Linked DNA regions of Homo sapiens. The protein of the gene in region 3 interacts with the protein of the main gene of each other region in a biochemical or structural test. Each region holds a gene or a part of one and is shown on either strand. Other genes may lie near its edges.

Evidence for each region. Proteins that work in one complex are often made in the same cells at the same time.
Region 1: the proteins of SLCO1C1 (region 3) and INTU interact in a test that uses a peptide from one of them, tested with the Homo sapiens proteins (one large-scale study listed by IntAct).
Region 2: the proteins of SLCO1C1 (region 3) and PDLIM3 interact in a test that uses a peptide from one of them, tested with the Homo sapiens proteins (one large-scale study listed by IntAct).
Region 4: the proteins of SLCO1C1 (region 3) and MAST3 interact in a test that uses a peptide from one of them, tested with the Homo sapiens proteins (one large-scale study listed by IntAct).

What each region holds. Positions count from the first base shown.
Region 1 is NC_000004.12:127,642,233-127,647,085, forward strand, and holds part of INTU (protein inturned), read left to right. Parts: intron 1-1,288; coding exon 1,289-1,824; intron 1,825-4,853. UniProt on the Homo sapiens protein: Plays a key role in ciliogenesis and embryonic development.
Region 2 is NC_000004.12:185,521,379-185,526,231, reverse strand, and holds part of PDLIM3 (PDZ and LIM domain protein 3), read left to right. Parts: intron 1-1,060; coding exon 1,061-1,212; intron 1,213-2,785; coding exon 2,786-2,870; intron 2,871-4,853. UniProt on the Homo sapiens protein: May play a role in the organization of actin filament arrays within muscle cells.
Region 3 is NC_000012.12:20,697,537-20,702,389, reverse strand, and holds part of SLCO1C1 (solute carrier organic anion transporter family member 1C1), read right to left. Parts: intron 2,839-4,853; 5' UTR 2,814-2,838; coding exon 2,685-2,813; intron 1,073-2,684; coding exon 931-1,072; intron 1-930. UniProt on the Homo sapiens protein: Mediates the Na(+)-independent high affinity transport of organic anions such as the thyroid hormones L-thyroxine (T4), L-thyroxine sulfate (T4S), and 3,3',5'-triiodo-L-thyronine (reverse T3, rT3) at the plasma membrane.
Region 4 is NC_000019.10:18,100,054-18,104,906, reverse strand, and holds part of MAST3 (microtubule-associated serine/threonine-protein kinase 3), read right to left. Parts: intron 1-4,853.

The sequences.
Region 1 (4,853 bases), on a different chromosome or scaffold from region 3:
TGATAATCTGCAATAAGTGAGGCTTAGTGCCTATGATGATGCCACACACTGGGAACCAACAAGTCCCAAAGAAATGTTAGTTTTGATATTTTCAGCTTGTTAGGCATTTTTAAAAATGACTCATATGTAGCTGAAAATTCTGTATTAATGACCAGCCACAGACCAGGGCAGTGGTTAGTTTGAGTTGAGTAATAGAATAGTATATTTTGGGGGCTAATTTTCAAAGTGTTTAGAAAGAGACATTTGACTTTTAAGTTAAGAGAACTGGAGTTGCTAATAAACACTGCAGAAAACAGAAATGTCTTCTATCTGATTTAATGATTACAACACAAATTATACTCTTTCAGGCCGGGATATTACAGCTCATGTTTCTGAAAAGACTCTCTACATGTTAATTTTTCCACTATTACTAGTTTCACTTTAAAGAATAGCAGTTTGAAAGGTAAACTGTTCATAACATTGAACAGGGTAGAGTTTAGGTTTGTTACCATGAGTATTTTTGCTCCTTAATGCTATTTCAATCATTTTAATAGCAGTAATTTTGTTTTTTTTTTCAGTGGCATACTTCCCAGTTAAAAATATTTTTTATAATCACGATGAATTATGTAATATGTGCTTTTTTTTTTCTACTACAATTTTTCATAAAAAGGAGTTTTATGGAAATTATAGACAGTAAAGTGATCATTACTATATTAACTGTGATTATAAATGGGTTGTTTTCAGGACAGATTTTAGTTCATGGTGAAGTGAATGTTTCTTTTTTGAAAACTTATGTAAAAGTCTGTTAAAGCTGGCTTTAGCTTTCATTTTAACCTGACAGCCATCCTAAATAATTTCTATGCAAATAATAGATTTTCATGTACAATTTCCAAATGGCATGCTTGTGTGGATATAATTGCATAATCAACTGCTAATGCAAATTATCATTCAGTGAAATTGTTTAAAGTGAGCAGTAACCACACAGTGGTTGATTTAATTTTTTTCAACTCATAGATTCTATAAGGGGACCATCTCTTTTTTCATTGGTTTTCCTTTCTATTGCTATGCCTTTTTGATTCCTTCTCCCCCAACTCCTATTCAAAGCTCTACAAAAAAAGCATCCTATATGAAATAATGTTGAGGATCACAATAAATTAGAAATAGTAAGGATAATTTGAAATAATAAAGAAGTTTCACCCTTTCCCATCTTCCTGCTCCCCAGCCCCAACCCTCACCCCCATGCCAGGATGACATACCTTTCTTTTATATATTGGGCTGCTATTAAGATTATCTTTTCTCTCTTTCATAGTGATCTTGAGCCTGAATGGCTGGACAGTGTGCAGAAAAATGGAGAGCTGTTTTATTTGGAATTGAGTGAGGATGAAGAAGAAAGCCTCCTTCCTGAGACACCAACTGTGAACCATGTCAGGTTCAGTGAAAATGAGATTATCATTGAAGATGACTACAAAGAAAGAAAAAAGTATGAACCCAAACTCAAGCAGTTTACCAAAATTTTAAGAAGGAAAAGACTTTTACCCAAGCGCTGCAATAAAAAAAATAGCAATGACAATGGACCAGTATCCATTCTAAAGCATCAGTCCAATCAGAAGACAGGAGTCATTGTCCAACAGCGATACAAAGATGTGAATGTTTATGTAAACCCCAAAAAGCTAACTGTTATCAAAGCCAAAGAGCAGCTCAAGCTTCTGGAAGTGCTGGTTGGAATTATTCATCAGACCAAGTGGAGCTGGAGAAGAACCGGAAAGCAGGGTGATGGAGAGAGGCTTGTGGTTCATGGCCTGCTGCCAGGGGGATCTGCTATGAAGAGCGGTCAGGTACTCATTGGTAAGTGTTGCTGGTACACATCCATCCCTGTTTACAGAGATCTTGATTAATGATGACACCTTGCGGGAAATGTGATAAAAACAATTATATACAGTCTCCACAGATAAAGAACTGATTAATGACATTTGGTACAGTAGAGAAATGGTTACACATGGTGCACTACAAGGCACAGTGTTCTTAAAATGACCAGTTCAGTGTGTTGAGTATGTGTGTGCCTTGTTCAGGCCAAGAAATAGCTTACCTAATTTTCAAGTTTTGAATTATATAATTTTATTTCATCTTGGTTATATTTGCTGACAAGAAAAAAAACGTTGATCATAGAGTGATAATTTAGGTTTGAATGGCTATATCCAGTAACAGGATACAAAAATATATAATTTATGAATAAAAATACTTTTAAATTGTATGTTTGCACTTGAGTACACTAAGTTCTTGGAGTGGTTTTCAACTGTTTCATTTGGCATATTTTGCAACAGTGGTGTTATATATAAATTTCCTTTTAAGGGCGTGTGTCATAAAATATATCTGTCATAAAATAGCCCACCAATTTTCAAGAAAAATAAACCCACAAATTATTCTGAATATATATTAAGATGAACATTTTGTGTTGCTGATAAATTTTAAGCTGTTAGATACAATGTTTGAGTTAGTAGCAATCTAATTACTTAAAGATAAATGAGTAAAATTTGAGGATATATTATTACTAAAATTTAAAAGTAATAACAGTTCTAAAAGCTGACAGTCTTTTAAGTTTATCTAGCATAAGAGGTTTAAATGAAGAACATTTACAGATAAATTTACAAATATTTCCAACTTTAAATCTGAATTTCATTTGTTTGTTCACTGATTTGACAGTTTGTTTTTTTAGCATCTGCTAAGTGCCAGGAATACAAAGATTACTTTACTGATCCAATTATTTCTTGAAAGGAGCTATGTTTTAGTGGAAGAGACGGGTTACAGATAGGCAGGCAGCTCCTCACTGTCTGATAAGTGTCATCATAGGGGTTTACAAGGAGGATCATATGGAATCTTGTAAGAAGGGCATCTGTGGCAAAGTATGTGTTCCAGAATGATCTCAACAGGATCTGCACACTTTCTTAAAATGTAGTGTTGATACTCCTCCCATGGAGAGTTGTGCTCTGTGTCATTGAATCTGGGTGGGCCGGTGACTACAGCTTAATTGGTGCCATGTGACTTAAGAGGTTGGATCATAAAAGGTGATGCAGCTTCTGCCTGGTTATTTTGGGGATACTTGCCCTTAGAACCCAGTCACCATTGTGTGAAGAGGTCAAGACACCAGTGATCCAGCTGATAGCCCCAACTGAAGCCCTCGCCACCAGATGTGAGTGAGAAGCCTTTAAGATGACTCCAGCCCCAACCACCATCTGCCTGTAACTGCATGAGGAATCCCAAGTGAGAACCACAGCTGACCCCAGTTAACCCCAGAACCAGGAGAGATGATAAATTATTGTTGTTGTTATTTTTTTATTTTTTATTTTATTTATTTATTTATTTATTTTTGAGATGGAGTTTTGCTGTTGTCACTCAGGCTAGAGTGCAATGGCACCATCTTGGCTCACTTCAACCTCTACCTCCCGGGTTCAAGCGATTCTTCTGCCTCAGCCTCCTGAGTAGTTGGGATTACTGGCACCCACCACCATGCCTGACTAATTTTTTTGTATTTTTTAGTAGAGATGGAGTTTCACCATGTTGGTCAGGCTGGTCTTGAACTCCTGACCTCAGGTGATCCACCCGCCTCAGCCTCACAAAGTGCTGGGATTACAGGCGTGAGCCACCGTGCCTGGCCAACTGTTGTTGTTTTAAGCCTCAGAATTATTTGGATAGGCCTGGCGTGGTGGCTAACACTTGTAATCCCAGCACTTTGGGAGGCCAAGGTGGGCAGATCACTTGAGGCCAGGAGTTTGAGACCAGCCTGGCCAACATGGCAAGACCCCGTGTCTACTAAAAAATACAAAACTTAGCTGGGCCTTGTGGTGCATGCCTGTAATCTCAGCTGCTGGGGAGGCTGGGGCACGAGAATCACTTGAACCTGGGAGGCAGAGGTTGCAATGAGCCAAGATTGTACCACCGCACTCCAGCCTGGGGGAACACAGTGAGACTCTGTCTCAAAAAAAAAAAAAAAAATTGTTTGGATGACTTATTATGCAACAATAGATGACTGGAACAGGGGCTAATACATACTTACATTCTCTTGGGTCCTCTACTTTCCTTCTTGTGAAATGATAGGATAGAACTAAATATCTCTATGGTTTGTTCTTTTAGTTCTGTAAAAGGAGCCAGAATTCATTTAACGTGCCCCCCTTTCAGTGGTGTTTCCTGTGAGTTGGTAGTTAGATCTTGAGGCCTATCAAACATATTTTATAGGTGGTCTGTGTGCTTCCATCAGGAACAACATATTATCTGCTGTTTTTCTTTTTGTGATATTAACAGTTATTGATGATCATTGCCTAAATCCATTAATTCATTAAGGGACTGCAAAATGGTGATATTCCAATTCTGTCAGTCTTTCTCAATATTTCAGTTAGACTACTTTCATAAAAAGAAGCTCCCCCTCACCTCTGGTAACCTTGACATATGGTTTAGACAGGAAAGGCAGGATAAATGTCTGATTTTTCTTCATTTAACAGTTTTCACAAAAGCAAGTTGGTACCATTATTCAAGGACTTCAGAATGGTAGGTTGGGAGGGGCCTTAATTCTCTCTAGTTTGGTGCCCACATATTATAGACGAGGGGTTGAGATTGAAACTCAAAAAAAAATAACAAAATTTATTGTTAGTAAATGCATTGGCAGAAAACATTGAGTTTTGAATGTATAAAATGGCAGTATAGTAACTGCTTTTCAAAAACCAGATTCCCTTTCCCTGAAGTCAAATTTGGCTTAATTAAAAGGATCAATTTCAATTCACAATTTGATCTCATTTTTCTGTCCCATACATATGTGCCACTCCTTCTATCCATAAATCCCCACCTCTAACAAGCAAGCCTGATTTATTTTTTTCCTAACTGAC
Region 2 (4,853 bases), on a different chromosome or scaffold from region 3:
TTCTGTACGCTCATGTTAACTCACACTGGATCTTTAGCAATTTGTTAATAATTTTAGCTGAATTCTTCATAACAGCTAGTATGGGAGCCCCATCTTCCTCCATGCCCTGCTCCATGCAGGTGAGCCTGTGCTCATGTCTTGCCTTTGCTTGAAGGCACCTGTCTTTCCTTAGATTTCAAGTTTATTGCCCTGTGACTTTAGCTCTCTGAAGGGTTCAAGAGAAGTTATAATTTTGTGTATTATCTGGCCTCTTCTTGTTAGTCTCTACAGATTTCTAAACAAAGTGCAATAGACTGGGTGGCTTATAAGTAACATAAATTTATTTCTCACTGTTCTGGAGACCGGAAATCCAAGGTTAGGATACCAGCATGGTTGGGTTCTGGTGAGGAAACTCTTCTGGGTTGCAGACACCTCACTTGTTATTGTTTCCTCCTTATTGGAGGCAAGAGAGCTGAGAGCTCTCTCTGAGGCCTTTTTCATAAGGGCACTAATCCCATTCATGAGGGCTCCTCACTTCTGACCTAATTACCCCCCAAAAGTCCCTCCTCCAAATACCATCACATTGTGGTTAGGATTTCAACATTTGAGTTTTGGGGGGAGATAAAAAGTCCATTGCATGCCTCTTACGTGAATTTTAAAGATGATAAATAGTAAGGATTGCTATATTTGGATTGAAAGCAGTTTCAACCTGAATGTAAAAGATGCCTAAATATAGTAAAACTCTATTCCCAAATAGAGACTTCTGGGTGATGAAAAATAAAAAATAATTTTTTAAAACAAAAAAATGTATGATTCACACTGGGAATTATGTAAGATGTTTTAAAAGAGAGTAACAGATACAAGGATATGAAATGTGGTTAGTAAGAAACAAAATCATTCAGCAGGATGAGAAAATAGACCTAACTCAACTGACCAACTAAGAGTTATCTTTAGTTAGATTTACAGTCTTTCTGCCCAATTAAACATTTAAAATGTTACCAGGCTGAAACACAAATGTCAGGCACAAAACTCAAGATACTGCGGGATGTTGGTTTTTAAATAGTGCCATGATTTCTTCCAGATTACACCAGGAAGCAAGGCGGCAGCTGCCAACCTGTGTCCTGGAGATGTCATCCTGGCTATTGACGGCTTTGGGACAGAGTCCATGACTCATGCTGATGCGCAGGACAGGATTAAAGCAGCAGCTCACCAGCTGTGTCTCAAAATTGACAGGTGCTTCTTAACTAATGGTGCTTAAATCTGATCTGTTTTGCAGGAGAACCTGAACCAGAACTATAAATAACTTCATCCTCCCAGCAAGGAGGGCCACAGACCTAGTATTTTGGCTGACTTTTTATATATTAGCTACTTAATTCTTTACTAAAGTCAGTCAATCTAGCAGTTGTTGACAAATCATTTCTAAAAAGGATTCTCTGGAATGTTAGAATAATAAAAGAGGCTAAAAGAATTTGTTCCAGTAATAACCCGGTTAATTAACTATGAAAATAGAACTATTAGCCACATAAACACTGAACAACACAACTAGTTATATCACTGTTCTCAGTGTGGTAGAGAATGGAATGGAATGGAATGGAATGGAGAGATTCCCCTGAAATAATCTCTTGACTTGCCTGACTGTAATTATATTAAAACTGGTTGCTAATATCCTGTCTGCCATTGGCTGTTTTGTACAGAATTCAGCCCAGAAGAATGTTACAGGTGTGAGAGTGCATATGCACGTGGGCATGTGAAATACTGAGATGTTTCTGACCCCACCCCCCAAAAACACTAAGAAATTGAGCCTGATCTCTTGCCATCAGATCCCTGATCCAAAACTGAACCATGATAATAATAATTTGTTATAGTGGTTGTTAGTGTGTGTTTATCCTGTTATGATTGTACTCACAGTTTTCCGTGCTGTGGTACAGAAGGATCAATCAATCCACCAATCTGCCGTTTCCTTGGGGTGAAATAGATTCTTTCACTCTCTATGCATAACCTGTGTTCATGCCGAGCACACAGTCCCTTAGGAGCCACTAGGTCCCAGGCAGATGCATGAGAAGGGTTGGACAAAGCACATTTCCTTGATGCCAGTAACACATCCACCTGGCAGATCACTCACTGTCTTCTGCAGTGGCCTCAGTAGGACTGGAGGGAAGTAGGGAGGTCTAGGGAGCTTGCCTGGTGGTCATCTGCAGAGTGTGCCTGCAGAGTCTCCCTCTCCTGTTTCCCACATGCCTTGCAGGCCTCCTTCCTCCAGAAACTGTGCAGTGTACTCCAGGCAATTTTTATCTAGTCTGCCATACCCAAAAGGACATTAAAAATGTACGACTTCGGCCGGGTGTGGTGGCTCCCGCCTGTAATCCTAGCGCTTTGGGAGGCCGAACTGGGCGGATCACTTGAGGTCCAGAGTTCATGACCAGCCTGGCCAACTGGTGAAACCCCGTCTCTACTAAAAATACAAAAATTAGCCAGGCATGGTGGTGGGCACCTGTAATCCCAGCTACTCGGGAAGCTGAGGGAGGAGAATCGCTTGGACCCAGAAGGAGGAGGTTGCAGTGAGTCAAGATTTTGCCACTGCACTCCAGCCTGGTTGACAGAGGGAGACAACATTAAAAGAAAAAAAAAGGGGGGGGGAAGACTAATTATGTGGGAAAATACAGAATAATCAGCAAAAAAAAAAATTGTTTTTGCATAAGTTAGTGAGGTTTGCTAGTATTTTCACAAACATAATGGGAAACTAAAGTATGCTAAAACTGAAAGTACCATTAGAATTTGAAGTTTACAAATTTTATTTTATTTCCAGGGGAGAAACTCACTTATGGTCTCCACAAGTATCTGAAGATGGGAAAGCCCATCCTTTCAAAATCAACTTAGAATCAGAACCACAGGTATGCGTTTTAGAGCAAATGATACACATTGTATTTCCTTTTAAATCATGGGGATGCCTTCCAAGGGGAGGAAGAGACAAATAGAAAAATTGGAACAAGCCACCTATGAAGCTGTTGTCTGTCATTCCTCTCCGAGATTAATTTATATTATCCGTGTTTTCTTACATCAAGAAAAAGAAGTGTTCCTATGTGAACATCTTGTTGAAAGACAAAATATGCTCCCATCAGAAAGAATTTGGCTAAATCTACAGAGTCCACTTATTATTTTTTCATTTCTTATAATGGACTTCTGTGAAATGACCGTGAGGTAATCTAAGGAGTTTAAGTTGTTAAAACAAAGCAAAGCAAAAATAAGGTCTACCATTTGAAACAGGTGTCTCCAATCTACGGTTACTGTGAATTTCAGTCCTTCGAGGTCTTCACCCAGATCTCATTCTACATTCTTCTTTAATTCTCATTTCTGGGATTCTGTAATTAAATTTACTCTAAGAAAAGAGTGTTGCCTAGTGTGATGATGGTGATATTCTGCCGTTACAGCTGAATTATAAAAGATAAAGGATTTTCTCTGGAGGCAACTGTAATAAACTAAACTAATCATCTGATGCTTATCTATGTCTACTTTCAAAAGGCCCAAAAAACCTGAAATTAAATCAAATCTTGATTGTGATGTACTCATAAATCTAATTAAGAAAAGCATTTTATGACCTCTACATAGAAGCTCTAAAGGTTTAGAGATACAGATACATGAATTTACCATCCCTTTTGAAACACATGTTCCTGCTAAACTGATTAGATATTCCCAGCATGTAGTTGTTCTATATAACTGATGAAAGGGAACTGAAAACGTATTTGTAATTTATGTTTAGCAGTATTTCCCCTTTCAAGAAAATCAACTCCTGAATTTGTCCTTCAAGTTTTCTACTTGTCTCCATAAGCCTCTGATTTCTTTTGTGAAAAGATGTTGAATAACATCAGTACATGTGTCTCCTAGGGCTTCTCAAAAATTAGAATAAAATAATACAAGCAGAGAAGTTGGCACATTGAGTTATTCATAGAAATACTCAAGTAAGTGGTAGCTGTCCTTATTATCAGTACGTTACCCCCACCCCAGGCTGGGATCCGAAAGTCTCCTGGCGTTTCTTGCTGGTGAGATAGTTAGCTGCCTACATGATAGGACATCCTAGAGGCTAGGAATGCCTTCTTCATTGCTATTACGAGGGTCGTGACAAATGGAACAAAGCTTTATTTTCAGTTAAAATATAATCTCTCCTGGAGAAGAAGGATCCTGAGTAATGTAATCTTTAGAGGAAATGAGTTTATTAGATTGTTGTCGTAGAGTTTTGACTAAAGGGAAGGTAGAGTCTGAATCTAAAATCCACTAAAAGCAAAAGTAGGAGAAAATAAGCCCCAAAAGGAGTGAGCAGGACAGAGAATATGTTCATGAAGGCAGGAACCTTGAGGCTGTTGTCTTCCCTCTGAGTCCCTCCAGCTCAATAAATAGCCCACAGCTCAATAAATAGCTGACAAATGGATGAAAGGAACTGGAGGGCCTAAAAATGAGCTGTGCATTTTCTAACATTGCCAGGACCTGTCCTGGGAGCCAGTTCTCAAAATGGTGTTCTGCCATCACTCTCAGCTGTTGCATGGAAAGTAATCTTGAAAGTTGAGTGGGGCCAGGCGCATTGACTCACACCTATAATCCTTTGGGAGGCAGAGGCAAAAAGATTGCTTGAGCCCTGGAGTTTGAGACCAGCCTGGGCAACATGGTGAGACCCCATTTCTATAAATTTTAAAAATTAACCAGGGCATGTTGGTACACACCTGTAAGTCCCAGCTACACAGAAGGCTGAGGTGGGAGGAGTGCTTGAGCCCAGGATGTCGAGGCTGCAGTGAGCTGTGATTGCACCACTGCACTCCAGCTTGGGTGACAGAGCAAGACCCTGTCTCAAAAAAAAAAAAAAAGAAAAGAAAAGAAAGTTGAGT
Region 3 (4,853 bases):
AAGCAAATGCCTGAAGGCAAAAGGTTACTTATTCATTTTATTTTTTCTGTGATATTCAGAGTAAGAACCAAAACACATAGTATGTATGAAAAGAAATAAATTGTTAAAGAGTTGAAAAATATTTATTCACTTTTCTGAAAGTTCACCAGGTAAAGCTAAAATTGGAGCAGTTAGAGGTTTTACTATGGTGTATATCTGAATCTAAACAAGCCTTAAGGACCAGAGAGGGTACTATTTCGTTTACTTCAGCAAAAAATTAAAGCCTTTTAGTTTATCAATTCAGGAAGCAGACTAACTAGGATTATCCTCTTTAAATTACTTCTAAAACAGTGACTCAAATTACTCGATCTTTTTAATTTCTAAGGAGTCTGTAGTCAATTGCTAACCAAAGGCACCTGAGATTTGAATTTTTATTGCCTGCTCTGATCTTGTGTTCTTGGTAATAGAATCCCTTTATTCTTCTTTCTAGACCACTGGGTGGAAAAATCCCTTTTATGATGTAACTTCTATTCATCATTGCAGTAAATTCTTGTAGAGCGCATTTGGATTATTCCACACCTCTAAAATTGAATCATAGTGCTCCCAGGGTGTATTGTTCTTCTGTAAAGATACTTCTACATATTTATAACTCAAAATACCAATTAGCATCTCACCCTTTCCTCCAAGAAAGTCACTTACTCTGATGTAGAACTCTGAATTGTGTGAACCATACAATACCAAACACCTGGGGAGAAAAATTTACTGTTGATTGCTCTGAGAAAATTGCCTCTCCTGTAGAATAAGATCATGGTAAATTCTGTCCAAAAAAAAAAAAAAAGATTTTATGAATAGAGTCTGATCCCAGCAGACAATAGAATGCAGAAGGTGTTCTTTAGCCACACCTAGAAGATCTTGGGCTTAAAATTAAAGTCAGGCATCTGTAATACCTACCAATTTCAAAACTACCATCAATAACTCCCACCAGTGAAGAAGGGATATCAAACCTTCTCTCTATCTGAGTGATGGTGCTCTTCAGATAGCCTTCTGCCAATGCTTTGGCAAAGTAAACAAAAGACAAGGCACACAAGAACACCTGGAAAATATGACAGGTCACACTTAGTCTGACTCCAGCTTGACACACAATTGGAAACTAAGTAAATAGACAAACAAATACAAAACAAACAACAAAGAACAATGTATAATATCAACTTTATTATCACTGAAACTTTAATTCAAACACTGTTCGAGGTTTCCATCAGCCTTAAGCACTGTAAGTTTTCAACAGTTCAAATTCTCTTGGAATTTAAAATATATATTTGGTTTTTATGCGAAATGTGTATTGAATTATCTTTTGTCTTCTTCCACTCTGCTCCAGAGGGGCACTCAAAGGAGTCTTACATTGAAGAGTCAGTGTATGGTGAGACATTCATTGGTAAGAAAGTAAATGAAACCATAAGCCAAACACTTGACATCCTATAACAAGTCCAGCACTTGGGATTATGTATTTCACAGGGTGGTGCATGCACCAGCCGGGAACATAATGTACAGACTGAAAAAGTGCAACTATTATTCCTTGTGTTTATGTTTATACTTATTAAATTCATAGTCAAATATTTTTCTCAATGGAAAACATGTCTTTGATATCTAGCTTATATATTTTGATAGACATGGGTCTGTGATAGAACATTCATAGGGAAGGTTAGCATTTATATGAAAAAAGCAGAGATTTGTTGAGTGAATATTTGTATAAAGAAAGAATAGGAGCACACAAAGCATCCCTTAAGAAACAACTATTCTCGGGGGATTGGGGGAGCGGGGAGGGACAGCATTAGGAGATATACCTAATGTAAATGACGAGTTAACGGGTGCAGCACACCAACATGGCACATGTATACGTATGTAACAAACCTGCACGTGTGCACATGTACCCTAGAACTTAAAGTATAATAATTAAAAAATAATTAAAAAAAAGAAACTTCTATCACTAAATAGCAAAGAAAAATAGCATGATTTTAACAATGGGCAAATAATCTAAATAGACATTACTTAAAAGAAGGCATGGCCAACAGGTATATGAAAAAGGTGCTCAACATCACTAGTCATTATGGAGATGCAAATAAAAATCTTTATGACATATCACTTCACATCTGTTGGCTATAACAAAAAATAAAAACTGGTTAGAATGTAAAGAAAAGGGAATCTTTGTACATGGTTAGTGGTTACATAAGTTGATGTAGTCTCTTTGGAAAATATAATAGTATGGAGGTTCCTCAAAAAACTAAAAACTATTGTTTGATACAACAATCCTAAAAAAAAAAAAAAGCAACTCTTCTCCCTACTCTGTAACATTATTCCCATTTTTATTTGCAAAATGGGAGTAATGTGATGTTTCACAAATTAAATGTTATATCTGTGCTTGGCTTAATATCTGGCACATGGCAGAAGTTCAATAAATACTAGTTTCTACTATTTCTCTCTTTTCTGTTTGGGGGGGCATTTAAATGAGCCCAGGAAAGTAATTTAACCCACATGGTCAGGTAGAGATTGCTTGCACCGCCTGGCAAGGTGTGGTTTTAGTAAATTGCATCTAAGATCTTTTTTTTTTTTTAAAGGAGAAAACAATTCTCATTCTAACTTCATTATATAGATGATATCTGGACAGAAAACTAAGAGCATCAACACTATTTACTTCTTGGTTGCTCTACCTTTAGTTCACCACAGCATGGTTGCTTTTCTTCTGAGGAGGGATATTCTGTTTTAAAAGAAGGCCTTCCAACAGGTTGCACTGAAGTTTTGCAGAACAACTGGATATTTTCTTTGGATGAAGTGTCCATTATAAACACATTCCTTGACTCTGATCTGTCAAAGTTAGTTTTTAAAGTAAAAATAAATAAATACTACGCAATTTATTAAATTTTTTTATTCAACAGTATACCACAATTCTATAGACGCAATTTAAAGTGAATCTACCTTTTGTTGTCACAGTAAGTTGGCAAATGTTTTCAATTAAAATCAACCAGGATATCTGATTAACTAATCCTGCTATTGGAACTCTGTAGCCAGCATTCTTTCTCAATCTGCCCAGTTTAAGCCTCATTATGGCAAAGAATAAATTTAAGTGTTGCCTTTGGAATAAATAATGAGGCAGAATTTTGCTAACTTTGTGGTCTTGCCAGTTTAAACTAGGAGCAAGCAGGAAAGGAAGAAGAGGAATTCAACTATTTGAATATTGATTCATTAGGATAAAGTCTTTAAAGCCTTTAAATCTATCTTCTTAGCAAAACAAATAGAAGTTTTACATTCATTATAGGTCCCTGTACCACCTTATGATTCCTGTAGCACCCAATGTGAGCCTTAAAATATGACAAAAAAGAAGAGGTCCAATTTGTGTATTGTTTTTGTTTGATAAATAAGGGAGCAACATGATTTGTGCCTTAGATTTAATTCAGGTGAAAGAACAGTCTTTGATCAGCCTTAAAGTAAAAAAGACAGCCTTGCTTCCCATGCTCAATTTCCCACCGCCCCTCACAGGACAGGATCACACACTGAACCTATTTTCTCCCTGTTCACATCAATATTTACATATCCTGTGCCCCTACTTCTTTAGGATTCCACATGGCTCAGTGCCTGCCTGATAATCTAACCTAAATCAAGGAATTCAACAAACAAAGTATTTCTCAATCTCCCTAATATTATCAGATGACCCAATTGTACATTAATAGAGGACTTCTATATCCACATAATAGGAGTGGAATAATGTTATTCCTAAAGGAATAATGTTAGGAGTCAAATTTCATGTATTGTGGCAGAAATCTATTCTGACTGAGTATATCACCTTGACTTTATGCAATGCTTGTTTTGTGTTCACTAAACCTCATCCCTCACCATTTCAATTCATACTTTCTCAAACTGAAAAATCAAGTAATAGTATAAACGATTTGCTTTGTATTAATAATATGAAGTTAAAACATCAGAGGACTTCAACAATTTAAAAATTAAGTGGATTCCTCTAGGGAGTGGGAATTGACTAAAGGAAAGGATGAGACAAGGGTCTGGTTTCAAAAAAATTATTATTAGGCTTTTGGATTCATTTTATAAGCATTCATAACTTTAATTTTTTAATTGAAAAAGAAGAGTGAGTGAAAGAGAAAAATTTAAAAACAAAAAATAAGCAAAACAAAGAGCTAATAATGTTAATCAAGACAAAAAACAAAGATATAAATACATAATATTAATGAGATAAAACACAGATATTTAGGAGTATAAAACATAAAAAGATGCATCGAATGTTGAAGTAAGTTTAATATCTTGACTTAATGGATAAGTTTCTAGCAAATATTCATTACCTATATTGATAAAAACCAGAAGAGAAAATAGCCAAGAAAGACATTATCAAAAATACTCTGAAACTATTCCCTAAACAAAGATACTAAGGATAGATGATGCACCAGAAGTGCTTTATCAAGGGATATTCTTTGAGGAAAGATAGCCGATAATGGAAACAGATAATCATTGTCTCCATTAGTTTGACAAAAATAACATTATCTTGGTAACAAAACAGCACAAAGATAGCACAGAAAGGAAAACTTCAGATCAAGCCCATAGATTATAAAAATTCTAAGTAAATGCTAGCAAATCCAAATTAACTCTTGCTCTATGATTAGAATTATTCTAAAAGATGCAACAATTGGTTAATTACAGGAAATTTATTCACCTAAATTACCACATGAATAATTCAAAATAAAAAATAGAATTTCATTACATGAAAAACATCAGTTGATAAAATTCGACATCTATTACTGATTTAAAAAACAAAGTTTAAGAAATGAAGAATATAGAGATTCTTCCTTAACAGTATCTGATACCAACAGCCA
Region 4 (4,853 bases), on a different chromosome or scaffold from region 3:
TAATCATGATCAGCCATTACTATTGCTGCTGTTGTGTGCTGTTGTACTATTGTTGAGCTCAGCAAGGGACCATGGAAGCTGTCATAATACCTGGTAAATGTCCTTGCATTTACTGAGCCACCTCCTACGAACCGCGGGCAGGGGCTGTTTTACTGGCAGGGAAACTTAGGTGCAGAGGAAAGCCGGCTGCCCACGTCTCTTAGTGGAGTGAGAGGCAGGAAACTGGGTCTCAGGACACCCTCCCTCCACACACATCAGGGCGGCCACGTTGGGGACACACGACTATTTTTACTTTGGTGGGCTCCAGGCTGCCCACGTCGTGATCTGGGTGTTCGCCATAGCAACCAGTGACGCCATCGGCCCCTACAGCCAATTGGAGGGGGCCGGAAGCTGCTGGGCTGCCGGATGACCCAGCTGGGAGGGCAAGGTCTCCCGGGAGAGGCGGGGAAGGGTCGCGGGGGTGTGGCGTTACCCCAGGCCTGACTTCAGCTGCTCTGCGCTCAGAAAACCAAGCTGTCACGATGGGAGGAGAATAATCTACCCCTCGAAGGTCTCTCTGACTGCTTGAATATGTCTGAGGACAGACAACTCACGGCGTTTAGTTCAAGCAGTCATGGTGATGGAACCATCACCACCATCACCGTGGCCATTAGGGTCTCCTTCTTCCCCTTCCAATAGTTGTGGGAATTTTTTTTTTTTTTTTTTTTTTTTTTTTTTTTTTTTTTTTGAGACAGCGTCTGGCTATGTCGCCCAGACTGGAATGCAGTGGTGCAATCTTGGCTCACTGCAACCTCCGCCTCCAGAGTAGCTGGGATTGTGGGCATGTGCCACCACACCCGGCTAATTTTTGTATTTTTTATAGAGATGAGGTTTCACCATGTTGCCCAGGCTGGTCTTGAACTCCTGGTCTCAAGTGATCCACCTGCCTTGGCCTCCCAAAGTGCTGGGATTACAGGCATGAGCCACTGCACCCAGCCAGTTGTGGGATCTTATACCACTTCCTCCACTACCCCACGTGAAACAGGGAGGGATTTGAACCCTGGTGGGGGGTCCCACTTGCACCCCATCCAGGCATTTCCTTCCAAAACTCTGACAGTCCTAGGTTCCCAGTCTGGCTCCCCCACTCCTGCACTGTGTGACCCGACAAGTGACTTAACCCCTCTGTGCCTCAGTTTTCTCATTTGGAAAATGGCCCAGTGACATAGGGTCCCTGGAGGAATCAATGAGTAGCAAGCTCAGAGCCTGGTGCTGGGGGAGACTTGGATGGATGGGAGTCAAGACAATGATCAAGACGTGAATAATAACCACCAGTTGAAAGTTGCTTCCAAAAGACAAAAAGATGTGAATATTTTGTTTGTTTGTTTGTTTTCAGATGGAGACTTGCTCTGTCGCCCAGGCTGGAGGGCAATGGTGCGATCTTGTCTCACTGCAACCTCCACCTCCTGGGTTCAAGCGATTCTTCTGCCTCAGCCTCCCAAGTAAGCTGGGATTACAGGCGCCCACCACCACGCTTGGCTGATTTTGTATTTTTAGTAGAGATAGGATTTCACCATGTTGGTCTGGCTGGTCTTGACCTCCTGACCTCAAGCAGTCCTCCCATCTCGGCCTCCCAAAACGCTGGATTACAGGCATGAGCCACTGTGCCTGGCCTGAAGATGTTTTTTTAAAGTGGCAGAGAGAGGTGAGGCAAAATCGGCAGCTCCCTGCAAAGGCTCCCGGGGAAGCTGGACCACACAGAACTCTCCTGGCACCACTCCCGGACCCTTCGGTCCCCGCACCATCTGCTTTCCACCCACAGCTCCCTCTGTGCCTGCTGTTCCCCTGGGAGTGGTTCCCACCCAGAGGAGTGGAGGTTGGGGAGGCCCCGACCCCCTGAAACTGCCCTTTAAAGGTAATATTTATGGTATACCCGTCTGCGCTTGCCCAGGCTGGGGGATGCTGCCTCCCCAACAAGCTTTAGCCCCACCTTGAGGAAATCCCATTTTGGAGAAGACATAGCACAGCAGGAGCACCCCCATACTGGAGGGATTAAGAGAGACCCGAAGCAGCTGGGTGCTGTGGCTCATGCCTGTAATCCCAGCACTTTGGGAGGCTGAGGCGGGAGGATCACTTAAGATCAAGAGTTTGAGCCAGGTGCGGTGGCTCACGCCTGTAATCCCAGCACGCTGGGAGGCCAAGGTGGGCGGATCACAAGGTCAGGAGTTCAAGATCAGCCTGGCCAACATAGTGAAACCCCGTCTCTACTTAAAATACAAAAATTAGCTGGATGTGGTGGCAGGCGCCTGTAGTCCCAGCTACTCGGTAGGCCGAGGCAGGAGAATCCCTTGAACCCCGGAGGCGGAGGTTGCAGTGAGCCAAGACCACACCATTGTACTCCAGCCTGGGTGACAGAATGAGACTCCGTCTCAAAAAAAAAAAAAAAAAAGGTGGCCGGGCGCAGTGGCTCATGCCTGTAATCCCAGGACTTTGGGAGGCTGAGGCAGGCAGATCACCTGAGGTCAGGAGTTCGAGACCAGCCTGACCAACATGGAGAAACCCCGTCTCTACTAAAAATACAAAATTAGCAGGATGTGGTGGCGCATGCCTGTAATCCCAGCTACCTGGGAGGCTGAGGCAGGAGAATCGCTTGAACTCGGGGGCAGAGGTTGCGGTGAGCCGAGATCGTGCCATTGCACTCCAGCCTGGGCAAGAAGAGCGAAAGAGTGAAACTCCGTTTCAAAAAAAAAAGGCCAGGCGCAGTGGCTAACACCTGTAATCTCAGCACTTTGAGAGGCCGAGGTGGGAGGATCACGAAGTCAGCAGATGGAGACCATCCTGGCTAACACGGTGAAAGCCCGTCTCTGCTAAAAATACAAAAAATTAGCCGGGTGTGGTGGCAGGAGCCTGTAGTCCCAGCTACTCGGGAGGCTGAGGCAGGAGAATGGCATGAACCTGGGAGGTGGAATGAGCGGAGATCACGCCACTGCACTCCAGCCTGGGCGACAGAGCAAGACTCCGTCTCAAAAAAAAAAAAAAAAAAAAAAAGAGTTTGAGGCCATTCTGGCCAACATGGTGAAACACCATCTCTACTAAAAAATATAAAAATTATATTAGTCGGGTGTGGTGGCGCTCGCCTGTAATCCAGCTACTCAGGAGGCTGAGGCTGTGAGAATCGCTTGTATCCAGGTGACGGAGCCTGCAGTGAGCCAAGATGGCGCCACTGCACTCCAGCCTGGGCCACCGCACTCCAGCCTGGGCGACAGGGCAAGATCCTGTCTAAAAAAAGAGAGACTCAAAGGGAGAAGAGGGGTTGGAGGCACACAGAGAGGAGAGCTAAGGGGCTTCCTGGAGTAGGGGGTGTCAAACAAAGCCTGCAGGCACATGGAAAACACCAGTCCATGCCCAGCAAACAGCACGTGCAAAGGGAGGTGAGACTCAGCCTGCTGGGCACCAAGCCCGGTTGGAAGTTCGATGCCCCTGGAATTAAATGGGAGAGAAGTCAGCATGGACCACATGGCACCAGCCCCAGGGCTTCCAGGAGGAGGAGGAGGAGGAGGAGAAGGAGAAGGAGGAGGAGGAGGAGGAGGAGGAAAATAAGTGGAAGCTGTCCATGAGAAAGCAGGATCACCTTGGAGGGCTGAACCTAGAGGAGCCACCCCAGTAGCGGCAGAGACAAAAGTCCAGATACAGGCTCTAGCCCTTCTCTGCCGGGGGATGCTCTGTTTGTGGGACCTGGTGTTTTGAAATTCGGTCATGTGTAAAGCAAAGGTCCAAGTAGGAGATGATAAATGTAATAAGATAATAGTAGTAGTAGTAATAACAGCTCACGTTACCCGGTGCCTGCACACGTTATGCGTGAGGCTGAGTTTAACCCAAATTGGGAAGGTCTCCACCTCCTCCCTGGACCCAGGGCTGTCGCAAACTGGCCGCCCGCGGGCCAGGCCGGATCCTTTTTCAGACCTTTCCTGCACACAGCCAACAGCACGCCTCACATTGTCACCACCGGAGAGGACGCCCTGGGCTATGCGTCTGGATTGGCCGGTCAGCACCCGTTTGTGAATGGACTCTTTGGCCTTTGGCCTCCAGGAAATCTGATTGGCTCGCATCAGCGATCTACCCCCTGATTGGCTGGGGTGCTCCTGGACCATTAACAAGGTTTCCAGTCAAAAGAGACCCCAAACTGGGGCTGATGAAGACAACACCTTCACGTGCCAGATTGGTTAGAATTTCTCTGGCTTCCTGGTGGGTACTTCCCTCTTTGGGCCTCAGTTTCTTCCTTTGAAAAGTGGAACTAATAATAGCACTGACCACTCGGGCTGTTGGGAGAATTGAATGCATGAGAGGGCTTAGCCTGTTAATATGAACGGTTATTCCCACTTTACTATTATTTTATTATTATTTTAATCTTCTTCCACTTGGACCTTTATTTTTATTTTTGAGATAGGGTCTCGTGATCATGGCTCACTATAGCCTCAAACTCCTGGGCTCAAGAGATCCTTCTTGGCTGGGCGCGGTGGCTCACGCCTGTAATTCTAGCACTTTGGGAGGCCGAGGTGGGCGGATCACCTGAGATCAGGAGTTTGATACCAGCCTGGCCAACATGGCGAAACCCCGTCTCTACTAAAAATACAAAAATTAGCCGGGCGTGGTGACATGTGCCTGTAATCCCAGCTACTCGGGAGGCTGAGGCAGGGAGAATTACTTGAACCCGGGAGGTGGAGGTTGCAGTGAGCCGAGATTGCGCCACTGGACTCCAGCCTGGGTAACAGAGCATGATTCTTTCTCAAAAAAAAAAAAAAGAGAGAGAGAGAGAGATCCTTCTGCCTCAGCCTCCTTGAGTAGCTGGGACTACAGTCATGAGCCACCACACCTGG